Homo sapiens: one gene and its partner. The protein of the gene in region 2 interacts with the protein of the main gene of each other region in a pairwise test. Each region holds a gene or a part of one and is shown on either strand. Other genes may lie near its edges.

Region 1 (3,500 bases), on a different chromosome or scaffold from region 2:
GGAGATCTATGAAAAATAACATTTGAGAAAATTTTACTTGCCAAGTAGTCACTAATACAGAGTACTTATAATAGTGGCTTGTCATCACAAACACCTGGGATTTTTTAGGGGCTGTAAATGACAGAATACTGTGACTTTGGCATTCTGGCCTCAGGATTCATTATCAAGGGTTTCATTTTCATTCAGAAACATTTCTCCGTGGGAATCCCACTCACACGTATTTTTGTTGGCACTTGGGCCTATTAAAGGTGTGGTCTAGCATTTGCTCTTCACTCATCTTAAGATTATTTTCCCATGTACAAATGCTGGTCCTGGCATGAACAGGGTACCACTTAAAAATCATTATCCCTTCAGATGCTCCCTGAAAAATTAGTTATACCACCAAATTTATAGAGAAAGTTTCACAGAGTCCTATTTTTACAAAGCATTATGTTGAAATTGACAGAACCTTATGAAAGCAAGAGTTGATGGCAAGGAATTAAATGCAGCAGAAGATGCCATTTTGCTACAAAATGTCAGAGTTCCAAGCCTGAAAACAAACTCTAATTGTCCCTTTCCAGTGACTAAGCCAAATAGATAAAGAATCCCCCTGTCTCCTTGTATTTTTTAGAGCATTCTCCATCACTAGATACTCAAAGCAAAAAATGCTAATGGCAAAACTTCTAAAAAACAGACACCAGCAAAAATTTAGGGAAGATATGCCTCAAAATGTGTCTCAAAAGCGGCTCTCAGTCACTCAGCTCAGCACCCAGCAAGACTGTATGCAACTGCCCAGAGAGTGGGCTCTATTTGTCTGGCCCTGTACAGTTCACAGAGTATGTTAACAGTTATGATCTCATTTAGGGCTCAAATAACCCTCTGTGGCATGCAGGGGGTTGATAGTAGTTCTATTTTGTATGTTAAGAAACTGAGGTAAAGGGCAGACAATGTTTTTCCAAGATCTCTCAGCAGGAAATAGAAATGTGCAAGTTCTCTGCCTCCTATTCCCATTATCCTCCCTCTACCACACTTTCCATCTGTTTTGCCATTTTATCCTAGAAAGCATTCATAATAGACCCCAACTCTTTCCTAAAGAAATAAAAGTGAAAAAAATTATAAATCTCATTGAATATATTAGAAGGAATCAAGAAAAGAAACAATATGGAACTATCCCCAGCATTAAAAAGTATACATTTACATATATATGTAAATATATATATATATATACACACACACCCCTATATATATGTAAACTATATATATCCCATATAATAATAATCATATATACATGGGATTATTTTAATATGTATATATATTAAAATAAGGGATTGGGTTAGACATTATGAATTTGTTTTTAATAGTAAATATGGTTATTTGTGTTTTTCAGAGCCATTTAAGGAACAGAGTTGAAGTATCTATTGATACATAATGATTTGGGGAATAGATGGTTTGGTCTTCCAGCTCCTTCAGCAATTTCTTCTATCTCTTTGTTTCTAGAAAGGAAGCATATTATCAGGTTCAGTTCTGTGCTTAAGATATAAACCTCTCTGGTGCCATCACAGAAAAGGTTTCATTTGATTGAAAAAGGCTTTTTTTTCCCCCTCAAGATTTGGATGCTGCTGCAAATCTGTGTGTCAATATTATAGTCACTTCACTAAATAAATAAATGCTTTGCTGACATGTGGAACTCCTCATCTATAGAAATATAGCATATCCACTCTCATAGGGGCCTAGAAAAAATGAAAATTATGTTTTACCATTTATCCATATAGTTAACAGCCAGAAAACAACAGAGGAAATTAAAAGAAAACGTGTTTGGAGAAAGGCTCCCCTTTCCTAACCAAGCCAGAAGGATGGTTTGACTTCAAAAAGACAGACTGAGGCATTATAATAGGCTTGTTGTCCCAGAGTCTCTTGTGCAAAAGCAACTGATGAGGCGCTAATGAGGCACTAATCACTTGGTCCAGGGGGCTGGAAAGATACTGATGGCTGGGAGAACGCACTTGTTTTCCTCTCTGAAAACCTAGGCTAAATCCCAAGCTTGGTTGATGTGCAGGCTAGGAAAGAGGGAGATGAGCCAATAGGGCTTTCCCTGGCTTTTCCCTGGCCTTAAAGGGTGGGGTGGGGAGCAGGGAATGGACAGCAAGTGTTCAGAGTTTGGACAGCTTCCAAAGGAGGGTCACAAGAGATAAACTGCCATAAAACAAAAATGGGACTGACTCCTCAGTGTGGGGGGGATGTTTGCAAACTTGTTCAGGGCAGGATCTTGAGATGGTATATAATATTTCAGTGATAACCAACTTGAGCAATGGATGAGAAACAGATTGGCTTGCCCCATCTCTGGAATTAGAGGGGCACAGGACTGCAACTAGTTGTCAGATGCCCACATTAAGCTAAGGACACTCAAGTGACAATCTAGCAGGCTTGCTCCTAGCCCAGTGCTCTTCTCCTGCCCCATGCTAACCGTTTTGGTTCACGTTCTAATTCAATTTGAGTGTCTGAGCTTCATATCTGACTACTTGTTTCAGCCACAAGATAGGTTCAATAACCTGCTTAAACTACTTCACATTTATATTTGCACTTACTACTATTTGTTACTCAGGAACAAATTCAGTACCATTTCCCCCAGAAAATTAATTAATTAAATAAAATCTGAATCAAGTTTTTGTTTCTCGAAGAAAACCAGTCCTATCTTTAAATATGAAGGTTTAAAGAAACTCAAGATGTAGTCTCCCTTGAAAAAGCCTTAATTTCATGAGCTCCAAAGTGCAGAAAGTCAAAGGGTATGTGTCGATAATAAGAGGAAAGATGAGCTATAGATGACTTTAAGAAATCACACATGTGATGCACACTTCATTGCAAATGCATGCACACAAAGATCAACGGAAGCGACACAAATGGGGCATATGGATTTGTATACCAGTAGGATTGTGGAGGCTTTTGTGTGTGTGTGTGCGCATATATGTACACACGAATAAGTATCATAACATAAATAATTAAAAACGTGAATGTAGTTTGCACTATGAGCACGAGCACCTAGAATAAAACACAATGCTGATAATTGCTTTTAAATAAAGTCATCAAGATTGCCTCCGTATGATTTTTACCTTTTTCAGCCCAGAAAGATATCTTTCCAATTCATAAACACAGTGTCCTTGGCTGGAAACTTCCAATTCTCCTAAAGAAATACCTAAGAATATGCAAGGAGATTCTTATTATTTAAATGAAAGACAAGAGGCAAGTAGGAAAAACAATTTCAAAGGGAATTAGAATCAGTAAAATCTCAGAGAAAATTGTTATCCAGACTTCAGGGTAACGTATTCTAAAACCCTGAGGTAAGTTTCCAAAGACGCCTGCAACCATGCTGAGCAACTCTGTGGAGTCTGAAGGTGACTGAATCTAACCTGAAGGCCTTTTCTCAAAACTTTGGATGTAATCAATGGCCCTATTTTGCAGAAAAGTTGCAATTTCAGCTTTGAGGTTCTATGTGGCTGTTGTGCCACAATGTGGAATTATAGAGT
Region 2 (3,500 bases):
TCCTTTGTTAACTGGCAGTTGGTACTCACAATTCCAAAGCTGTAGACATCTGTTTTAATGGAAAGTTTCCCCTGTCTGATGTACTCTTCTGGCATGTACCACAGATGTTTACTGCTGCTGCTGGTCATATTTATGGTACAACTCTGATGTTCTAGGTGGGACCGGAAGTGTGCCATGGCAAAATCAGTTAGTTTGGGTTGAAACTGATCATCCAAAAGGATGTTTGCACTAAAATTGTGATCAGGGACAAACAAGACAAAATATCATAAAGGCACTTCAGTGTAAACAAACATACTATAAACTCACCTTCTTCATATCTGGTTAATTCGAAACACTGTCAAAATAAAGCCAAACAAATTTCCATGAACTGGAGAACATTCTTTCATTTTTCTTAATGTACAAATCCAAGTGTTATCTGCAACCTAGAATAAAAACCTGACCTATGAACAGTGGGCATTTCAAACTTAAAGATACATATGTGAAGTTGCTGGATAAAGCTGATGCTTTCTCACTAAGAGAAACTGAAGTTAACCAAAACAGCTTTCCTTGTGCTTTTCTTACACTTACGGAGAACATGAACTGAGTTTTAATCAGCTGATTATGTGTCTGTTATGTGCAAGAGCTGTGCTGTGAAATGCTTAGCTTATGAGCGCAGAGCCACTAACTTGGAATGATTTGAGGACTCTTTGGTAGTCCCTGCCCTCATGGCAGCCCTATCCCATGGTTTCATCTCTGTTTTTTGGTCTTTGAGTCTTATTTAAAATACAAATGTTTGCAGAGACAAAGGCAAAGTGCTTATAGTCAATATAAGCAGTTGTCACATTAAAAACCTTAAGAATCATCTGACATTTTGGCTGGGGGTAGGCATTGGCTTACTTTTACCTTCAAAGGGCTGTCAAAGCAGGAACCGGAAAGGATAAGCCAAGAGAGAGATCCATTTCCCACTGCATACAGCCAGGAGCTCTGCCTTTCCCTGGCTCCATGACCACCCACAGTTTCCTTCGCCATGTAAGCCTCAGTGCCCTCTCTCCTCTCATGTGAAATGAGGAGAACAGAACTCTGGCAGGGGGAAAACGAAGTGCATAGTGTCCTCCCCAGCACTTGGTAATGCTCAAAAAATGGCAGCTAGGAGGAAGATTAGTAATCAATTCTAAGAGAACAGATGGATATTGAGAAGGAGGTGGGGCAGCCAACAGAAAGGCATGCAATTCCCAGCTTTGCTTAGGGCTCTTCAGAGCTTGCTCTTTATTTCCTGAAACCAAAGCATCTAATAGTACACCTTCCCATCCAAAATGCCAAGAGGCATATTTGTAGTACGACATGCTGTTACTAAAAGTGCTACAGCAACAGCCACGGGATATCAAGAAGTTCTTAATTCTGAACAAATTTTGGATCTTACAAAAGCTCCAGAAGTCTTTGCTATCCCTATACAGGTAGGTTAACGGGCAGGCCCCAGTTCCATAGGTCTGAACTGCAAGTGTTCTTACTGTTCAGAGGACTCAGAGTCCTACTTCTATTTAGAGAGTTTGGGGGAAACAGTTCAATGTATGAAGCTAAGGCCTTAAAGATTCTAGTCCAGACTTTGTCTAGGGCTGAGTTGACAACAGAAAAAACAAAGGCACTTCCGGTGGTCTTTTTTTTTTTTTCGAGACAAAGTTTCATTCTTGTCCCCCAGGCTGGAGCGCATTGGCACGATCTCAGCTCACTGCAACCTCTGCCTCCCGGGTTCAAGTGAGTCTCCTGCCTCAGCCTCCTGAGTAGCTGGGATTACAGGCGCCTGCCACTACACTCGGCTAATTTTTAGTAGAGATGGAGTTTCACCATGTTGACCAGGCTGGTCTTGAACTTCTGACTTCAGGTGATCCACCCGCCTCGGCCTCCCGAAGTGCTGGGATTACAGGCATGAGCTACTGCGCCCAGACCCCGCGGTCTTTTAAGGATAAAGACACATTTTAAACTTTATTTCACTCCTCCTTCCGCTAAGGGTGGCAAGGGAATTGTAAAATCCAAAAAGCCCACCTTCTGAGCTCTAGGGCCTCTTATCAGCTGTGTGCTCTTAGCATTTATGGAAGGAAGGTCAGAGAGGCCTGGTTCCCAAGGCTCGTATCAATGAGCACAGTTGTCATTTCTCTCCTTGCCTTCTCCCTTCTCCCTGGAGAACCCAGCAGCTGCTAAAGCCAGCCTGGGCCTCACACACCCCCATCTGTCACTCCTCACCCACTCTTACTTTCTCACTTGGAGAACTGTTGACTATCCTGACATACCTCAGATGAGGAACAGACTAGAGTCAGATCCGACTTCTCTCCAGCTCTAGATAAGAAGAGACTGTCAGTTCATAATCACTTCTTCCCTAGGTTGACTCTTCAATGGATCAGATCAAGTCTGAGGCTCCTGGAGATGCCCTGAGGGTTTCAGAGTCCTGGGGGCATTTGAATGCAGGAGTTTGCCGGTGGGCCAGGAGGCGAGGTGGGAAAAAAAGGTTCTCCAACCTTCATTGCCAGGACCCCACCTTCTGCCCTTCAACTTTGGAGTCACTTCTGCATGCCCCATTTCATTTCAGCACAGGGGGAGGGTGGGAATGTTCTGAATGGCAGATATTCAATGTCAAACACCTAAACATCTTCCTCTATCACAGCTCTAAAAAAAGGCATAGAATTATAATTGACAATGCCAGAATCATGAGACTGCAAAAGCTGAATTTTTGAAACACACACACACACACAAAAAAACCCTGAATCTTTTAAGTACAAAAAGGGAGAAAAGAGCAACAGTAATAACAACAAAACCTTCAATCTAATTCTTTATTTGACCCATAGCAAAGCTGGTGGGATGCTTTCAGCAAATGGTGAGTCAGCTTCTGTGAAAGTTGGGCAGAAGGGAGTTGAGTAACCACAAACAATGCTTACACCATAAAACCCAGAGAGGACTTTGGGTCAGTGAAAGGCCATCAACAAGATGTGAAATTATTCTAGGGTACTGAATTTACAATTTGAATAATGACAATCGGTGAAAAGATAAGTCGTTTTTCAGCTGACTTTAGTGTATAACATAAATTTTGAGTCCAGTGATTTATTCTGTTCTAAATAAAGGTTAGCGGTAGCTGAGGAAGAAGGATGTTCTGTTTTAGGAAAGCGGAAATTGCAAAAGGCCCTTCAACGATCAATTTCTACCTTAATTCTTTTCCCCTGCTTCAACCTTAAATAGAATGTTCAAACACAAAGTGTCTTCAGCTTCCATGCAGGTCAGCTGAGTAAGTTAATCCTGTGGGGTGAAAATAAACTAACAAAATTAAGAACCTAACACAACTACAGTCATGGCAATATCATGCAAAAGGGCAGCCTGCAAGCAACTGTGGCCACCAAAGAGATAGATAAAAGACATCTTTGACCCATATCCATGGTTCATATCCTCAATTTCATGCTTCTACAATCGATTTGTTCTACTCTTTATCACAAGGCTATTTACCTTAACAGAGAGGCCATCCCCTCTCCAGATAATTC

What was found.
Region 1: the proteins of IRAK3 (region 2) and NTRK3 interact in a two-hybrid assay, tested with the Homo sapiens proteins (one large-scale study listed by BioGRID and IntAct).

What each region holds. Positions count from the first base shown.
Region 1 is NC_000015.10:87,865,240-87,868,739, forward strand, and holds part of NTRK3 (NT-3 growth factor receptor isoform a precursor), read right to left. Parts: 3' UTR 1-3,500. UniProt on the Homo sapiens protein: Receptor tyrosine kinase involved in nervous system and probably heart development.
Region 2 is NC_000012.12:66,241,214-66,244,713, reverse strand, and holds part of IRAK3 (interleukin-1 receptor-associated kinase 3), read right to left. Parts: intron 229-3,500; coding exon 30-228; intron 1-29. UniProt on the Homo sapiens protein: Putative inactive protein kinase which regulates signaling downstream of immune receptors including IL1R and Toll-like receptors.